Homo sapiens: one gene and its partner. The protein of the gene in region 1 purifies or fractionates together with the protein of each later gene. This does not show direct contact. Each region holds a gene or a part of one and is shown in the gene's direction. Other genes may lie near its edges.

Region 1 (3,821 bases):
TGAAGTGGGGTTGATCCTTAGAGATACAAGTGGAAAACTGAGGCTCGGGGACATTGAATGGCTTACCTAGGGTCAAAGGGCTTCTAAATGACAAAGTCTGGAGCTCAGGTCTTCAGACTTCAAATGGAAAGCTTTTATCTATATCCTATTCCCTCTCTCTCACTGCAATTAAAATAAGAGAAATGTGTTCGACTAGAGGCCTGGGGAGGTCACATGGAAAAAGAGTGGACCCCACTAAGTCTGATTTGGGTTAATGAAGAATAGGCAAGACTTACCCCAAGCCCAGATAACACACTTTTGACAAGTGTGGCATCTATGGATACAAAAAACCACTAATGGTAATGAAGCATCTTTTAAACTTCTTAAAATTTCAACTCATAATAAGAAATACACTTTACATTTCAGTGTATTGTGCACTAACATACCTTTGTGCCAAAACAAAATTTCATGAACCAGTAATTAAATATATACAGTATACCAATTTATGCTATTTTAGTTGTTTAAAAAATGCCAGCCATGATGCAGCAAGAGGTTGTTGACCATACTTTGAATCTCAAACACCAGACCAGAAGGTTCCAACGGTCCCTAGTAGTAACAGGTAATGCTGAATAGATAATAAGGGGCCAGGCTGGAGGGATGTGAAGTGCCAGGACTGGCACTAGGGTTGAAAGTTCTTTTACCACCAAATACTCAACCTTTCTGAAAGGTTTTCATCCTATCACTTAGGCAGACTTTCATCATGGTAATGTATAGAAGGGAAGATTATAAATGTTAAGTTTGGGTAATATGAGAGTTTAAAAAAATTCCTTTAGCTATGTATTACATTTGCATTGGAAAGGTATTACATATTTTGAAAGTACTATTAATGCTTTTTGATCCTTTGCTGTTTTTAAAGGAAAATGATGCTGCTGCTCTATGAAGAAGGCCTCCGGGTTGTCATACACACCTCCAACCTCATCCATGCTGACTGGCACCAGAAAACTCAAGGGTTCGTAGGGGCCTGCTCACTTCCTGGCAGTGTGTGTGTTGATAAAGGTCAAAAGCCAGAACATTCACTTTATTCTTTTTTCTATTTTTTTTTTAAGTTGTAAAAATAACACACATGGCCTAGAAAAAGAGTTGTATGCAGAAAAAGTTACTGTATTCTTTTACTACCTGCCCCATTCTACCTTCTTGGGGTAACCAGTGTTAACAGGAGCATCATCATCCACAGCTACCTCTGCTGTACATGTAAACATACATTACTATTTACACACAGTAGTCTCTTCCTAGTTTTTAGAGAAGTGGCATCATATACACTCTACAGCTAAGTAGAGGGCACAGCACATGCAGAGATCTGAGGCAGAAAAGGGGTTACAGAATGAAAGATCTGAACCTATTGTTTTCCTAGTAGGATTTACCAGATAGCTTTTGTGATTTCTCCTTACTCATGTACCCACCTGTATTTTTGCTTACCACTTCCCAAACAGGAATCAAAGGAAAAGTTGGGGTAGGGCCTGGTCATGTTAATAGTGTGCTAAATATTTCCCCACTCCCCCAGTTGGTGTATTTTCTTTGAAACAAATTTAAGCTGGTGTCTTTTTAGAGCCTTTAGTGTGTTAATAAAGTTGTGAATCTCCAAGAGAAGAACTGAATACGAAAGCTTTTATGAACTTTTTAAACTACTAACCCTCTGTACTTGGTGCACATATGCTAGATCCAGGTTTTGATCCCCTTTTCAAGAGGGGTTTGCTTTTTAAAAGGGAGCTTTAGGGATTTGCTCAACAAGTTCAGCTATTGTTCTTGATTATGACTAACTTTAATTTTCTTTTGTTTAAGCCATTTTGTACATCTCTGCCTGTGCTAGAGAAGAGCTGGTTAACAAACAGCCTTCTGTGTTGGGAGAAACTCGGACGTTTGTCTAGCACCATTTCCAGGTTCACGTTTTCTCTGTCATCCTCCTCTGCCTCACCCTGCCCCATATCATTGCCTAGCTTGGGCTAGAACTCCTAATTTGGAGTGTATTACTTTCAGCTAAGCTCTGCTGAGCCCAGGTTACATCTTTGTTTTGTTTGTTTTTTTGAGACGGTCTCACTCTGTCACCCAGGTTACAATGCTGTGATGCGATCACGGCTCACTTTAACCTCAACCTCCTGGGCTCAGGTGATCCTCCCACCTCAGCCTTCTGGGTAACTGGGACTGCAGGCACGTACCACCACACTTGGCTAACTGTCTTTATTTTTTGTAGAGACAAGGTTTTGCCTAGTTGCCAAGTGATCCGCCTGCCTCAGCCTCCCAAAGTGCTGAGATTACAGGCATGAACCACCGTGCCTGGCCCCAAGTTACATCTTAGTTTGAGCTGAAATAGCTTTCCAGTTTCCTTCAACAGGTCTTGCTTCAACCTGAGTGCACTGCGCAGGACAAATGTAATCTCCCTCCCTTAAAGCAGTCCTTCAGAGTTTGAAAGGGAGTCTTGTTTCTGAGCCTTACATCTCTTGTTCCCTCCCCACTCCCTTGCCCCACCATAGCATGTGGCTTTGAGACCCCTAGCTGTAATTCCTGGTCGCTTTTCTATAAACATGTTATAATTTTTCAGTATCCCACTGAAAATATGCTTTTCAAAATGAAGTGTGGCTCTGACTGGTCCAGGGTTGAGGGGATAGCTGCTTGGTCTCTAAGTCTCAGCTGTAGCACTTTCTTGATCTACTGAATTTATGGTTAACTATGCCTTTGGTACCCCAAGAGCTTCTAAGCCAGTTCTCCTGAGCTGCCAGATTGGGTTTGGGGATTCATGTGGCCCTATCAAAAGGCAATGAGATTAATGTAGCTTGTTCTCATGAAACAATGTTACTAAAGGGATTTCTCAGGTTAGCTCTCAGCCTCACGTGGTTCCAAGAATCCCACCCTGGGCCTCCAGCTCCTTCTGAAGTTGGAAGCTTAGCTTACAGGCAGTAGTACTGTCTTGGGATTCTCTGGGGTGGTTGCCAGGAGGGAAGAGGCAGGGATAAGGGCTTGGGTGTTTCTTTTATTTAAAAAAAGTATTTTTTAATTTAAAATTTTGGAAAACTTATTGACTAGGTAGGAACGGTTCAAAACTCAGAAAGTACCAAGACTATGAAATCTTCCTCTGGCAGCCATCCTGGTGTGGGATCCTATTATTTCATGCTTGGCCTATATTCTACTCTCTAATGTTTTGCATTTCATGTTATTTGTGGTAATTTTAAAACTTTTGAAAGCAGTTTTTGTATACAATCTCACTTCATAATTGGTCTACTGTGGTTCTGCTAATCCCCTTCAGCTGCCTCATGATCCACCTGTTGATTTCTCACTTTTTAAAATTAGAACAAGAGTTGCATCCAAAGCTCACAGTAAAGAATAAAATAAAATTATTTGGCTCATTATAATAATTTTCTCATTTTGTGATGTGTTAAAAATGCCTCATATCTCAGCATCTTAGTTTAGAAAGTCATTTGTCTTGTTTCTCATCCAGAACTCACCTGTGAGTGAATCTCTGATCCAGGAGGAGCCTCACTCAGCCTGGGAACTTTGAGGTGCTATTGCAAGGGGAGGTCCTCCACGTCTGTCCAGCCCAACCTGGTCATTTTACACACGGAGGCAAAGGCCCAGAGAGATCACAGAGCTTACCCAAAATGGTATAGTCAGCTAGTCGATCTGGGTCCAGAACATGGGCTCCAGCCCTCATCACACCATGCTACCTCCTGTGCTAAGTGTCTCCCCAGGGTGGGAAGCAGGGGTATGAAATGCCCCTTGCTAGAAACTTGCAGAGTTGAGAAGATGTACGGCCGAGAGTCCTTGCAGTTCTGGATGCCTTCTGCCCTGGT
Region 2 (3,821 bases), on another chromosome or scaffold:
GTTTGGTTTTCTGTTCCTGTGTTAGTTTGCTGAGAATGATGGTTTCCAGCTTCATCCATGTCCCTGCAAAGGACATGAACTCATTCTTTTTTATGGCTGTATAATATTCCATGGTATATATGTGCCACATTTTCTTTATCCAGTCTATCATTGATGGGCATTTGGGTTGGTTCCAACTCTTTGCTATTGTTAATAGTGCTGCAATAAACATACATGTGGATGTGAAGCTTGACCAGTTTTTATAAAATGATTATACCTATGTGACCACCATCCAGATTAGGTTACAGATACATAATATTACCAGCATTCAGAATGAAAACTGTTCTTTTCATTCTGTACACATTGCCTGAGTGAACCCATCAGCTGGCTTGGTTTTAACTACCTCCTACATGCCCCCAAATTGAAATTGTCAGCTTAGACCTCTCTGAGCTTTACCCTCACATCTGACTATCCTCCTGGACAGCTCTGCCTGCAAGTCCCACAGACACTTCAAATTCAGATGACTGAAACTGAACTCAGTGTCTTTCCTGGACTTAACTCTTATCACATTCATCACTAAGTCCTGATAGTTTTACCCCCTAAACATCTCTCAAATCTGTGCAGTCTTCTCCATCTCTACTGTTGTCCTTTTACCTGCAATATCATGGCCTTCTAACTGATTTCCCTGCTTCTAGGCCTGTTCCCCCATATCTTTTCTTCACATTACTCCCCTCCACCCCCAGATGGTCTTTGGAAACAAGTCTGTATCAAATTCCTGCTTAATCTTTAAAGATCTGTCCATGCATTCATCCATTCTTTTCTCTAATTCATTCAGCAAACATTCATTGTCTACTGGCTTGCAAAATCCATTGAAAGTTCTAAAGTTTGAGCTTCTCAGCCAGGGCTCTGCCTGTTCTGAACCCTGCCTGTATCTCCAGCCTCTTCTCTGCCTCATGCTTTAGGTTCCAGCAACACTGAATGGCATCTTCATGGGTACTGTGCTATTTCTTCTTTGTGTACTTGCCCTTGTTCTCTTTGCTTGGAATCTTCTCCCTGTTTCCTTTCTCCACCTCCTGCTCCTCACCTAATTAGGCTGCTCCTTTTCACCTAATTAACCCAGTTTATAAATGGGACTCAGTTATAAAGTTTAGGTCCACCTCCTCCAGGAAATTTTTTCCTGACACCTCCTTCCTCCCAATCTCGGTTGGGTACTCTAGCATTGTGCTTCCACCCTTTGCACAGAGCAATCATCATGTTTACCACATCTACTATTAACATAATTGTTTGTGTTTTTCTCCTCCACAAGATTTATTTTTTTTAGATGAGGTGTTGCTGTGTTGCCCAAGCTGGACTTGAACCCCTAGGCTCAAGCAATCCTTCCACCTCAGTCTCCCAAGTAGCAGGGACTACAGGTACGTGCCACCATGCCTGGCTAAGGCTGAGTTTTTTGAAGGCTGGGCTCATATATTATCTCTTTATTCCCAGTACTAGAATGGCACAAGATACACAGGAGTGTAGTAATTTTGACTGAACGATCAAATGAGTGAAGCCAAAAGTTATATGATGCAGTGGTTAAGAACCCATTCTTTGGAATTCAAATTGTAGTTCTGGCACATATTGGCTATGTGACTTGAACATGTTACTTATCTTCTCATCCTGAATTTTCTCTTCTCAGAATGGAGTTGTGAGTGTTAAAATGAGACCATGTAAGTAAGACATTTAGCATAGTGCCTAGCACATAGTATGCACTTGATAAAGGTGCTGAAAACCGGGGGATCCTGGAGTAAAGACTAGGCCTGGCCCAGGACAGTGATCTCCCGAAACCCCTCCTCATTGTTTTGTGAATGCGTAGGCAGTGATGCAGTCTGTTAGCAGGGAGATTATAATCTTGTTTGGAAAGTAGAATTACATCCACATTAAACAGTCAGAGAACTGTGAAGGTAGTTTGACCACATCCAATAATAAGATGTAGAGAAGAGAAGACAGCTCAATGAAGGCTTTAGGGAGGAGGTGAGGCTTGAAAGTTAAATAGGATTTGGGTTTTAGGAGAAAGGAATACCAGGAGACCATATTAAGAATGACTTAGGCCAGGTGTGGCTCCTACCTGTAATCCGTGCACTTTGGGAGGTCAAGACAGGAGGATTGCTTGAGGCCAGGAGTTTCAGACCAGTGTAGGCAACATAGTGAGAACCCCATCTCAAAATAAAATAAATTAGCAAGGCATGGTGGTGTGTGTCTGTAGTCCCAGCTACTCCAGAGGCTGAGGCTGGAGGACCACTTTAGCCCAAGGAAGTTGAGGCTGCAGTGAGCTGTGATGACGCCCTGCACCCAATCTGGGCAACAGAGTGAGACCCTGTCTCAGAAAAAAAAAAAAAAGAGCGATTTATTTGGGAGATGCTGTTCAGTATATTATACTTGAAGGGTATACATACAGGCATACCTCAGAGACGTGGGTTTGGTTCTAGACAACTGCAATAAAGTGAACATATGCATGTTTTGGTTTCTTAGTGCATATAAAAGTTATGTTTATACTATACTGTAGTCTGTTAAGTGTGCAATAGCATTATGGCTGAACAAACAATGTACACACCTTAATTAAAAGTACTTTGCTAAAAATTGCTAATAGTCACCTGAGCCTTCAGTGAGTTGTGATCTTTTTGCTGATGTAGGGGGGGTCTTGCCTTGACGTTGGTGGCTGCTGACTGATCAGGGTCATAGTTGCTGAAGGTTTGGATGTCTGTGGCAATTTCTTTTTTTTTTTTTTTTTGAGACGGAGACTCGCTCTGTCGCCCAGGCTGGAGTGCAGTGGCGCGATCTCGGTTCACTGCAAGCTCCGCCTCCCGGATTCACACCATTCTCCTGCCTCAGTCTCCAGAGTAGCTGGGACTACAGGTGCCCGCCACCACGCCCGGCTAATTTTTTTGTATTTTTAGTAGAGACTGGGTTTCACCGTGTTAGCCAGGATGGTCTCGATCTCCTGACCTCGTGATCCGCCCGCCTTGGCCTCCCAAAGTGCTGGGATTACAGGTGTGAGCCATAACACCCAGCCCTTTGTTGGCGTTTTGGTAATGTTCATTACATCTTCATCAGGAATAGATTTCATCTCAAGAGACCGTTTTCTTTGCACATCCATAAGAAGCAACTCCTCATCCATTAAAGTATGATCATGAGATTGCAGCATTTCAGTCACATCTTCAGGTTCTACTTATAATTTTAGTTCTCTTTATTTCTGCTATATTGGGAGTGACTTCCTCCATTGAAGTCTTGAACCCCTGAAAGTCATCCATAAGGGTTGGAATCAACTTTTTCCAAACTCCTGTTTATGTTAATATTTTGACCTCCTCCCATAAATTACAGATGTTCTTAAGGGCATCTAGAATGGTTGTATCCTTTTCAGAAGGTTTTCAATTTACTTTTTCCAGGTCCATCAGAAGAATCACAGTTGATAGCAGCTATACCCTTATGAAATGTATTTCTTAATTAATAACACTTGAAAGTCAGAATTACTCCTTGATCCATGGGCTGCAGAATGGATGTTGTTTTATCAAGCACGAAAACAATATTTATCTCCCTGTATAATATATCTCCATCAGGGATCTTGGGTGCATTGTCAATGAGCAGTAATATTTTGAAAGGAATCTTTTTTTTATGAGCAGTAGTTCTTAACAGAGATCTTAAAATATTCAGTCAGTCATGCTGTCGTCCAGGCTTTGTTGTTCCATTTATAGAGCACAGGCAGAGTGGACTGAGTATAATTCTTAAGGGCCTTAGGATTTCTGAAATGGTAAATGAGCGTTGGCTTCAGTTTAAAGTCTCCATCTGCATTAGTCCCTAACAAGACA

The links.
Region 2: the proteins of TDP1 (region 1) and APTX purify together in Homo sapiens (affinity purification with mass spectrometry; one large-scale study listed by BioGRID and IntAct). This does not show direct contact.

The regions. Positions count from the first base shown.
Region 1 is NC_000014.9:89,979,645-89,983,465, forward strand, and holds part of TDP1 (tyrosyl-DNA phosphodiesterase 1), read left to right. Parts: intron 1-895; coding exon 896-988; exon of another isoform or gene 989-1,035; intron 1,036-1,818; exon of another isoform or gene 1,819-1,916; intron 1,917-3,469; exon of another isoform or gene 3,470-3,632; intron 3,633-3,821. UniProt on the Homo sapiens protein: DNA repair enzyme that can remove a variety of covalent adducts from DNA through hydrolysis of a 3'-phosphodiester bond, giving rise to DNA with a free 3' phosphate.
Region 2 is NC_000009.12:32,994,813-32,998,633, reverse strand, and holds part of APTX (aprataxin), read left to right. Parts: intron 1-1,285; exon of another isoform or gene 1,286-1,391; intron 1,392-3,821. UniProt on the Homo sapiens protein: DNA-binding protein involved in single-strand DNA break repair, double-strand DNA break repair and base excision repair.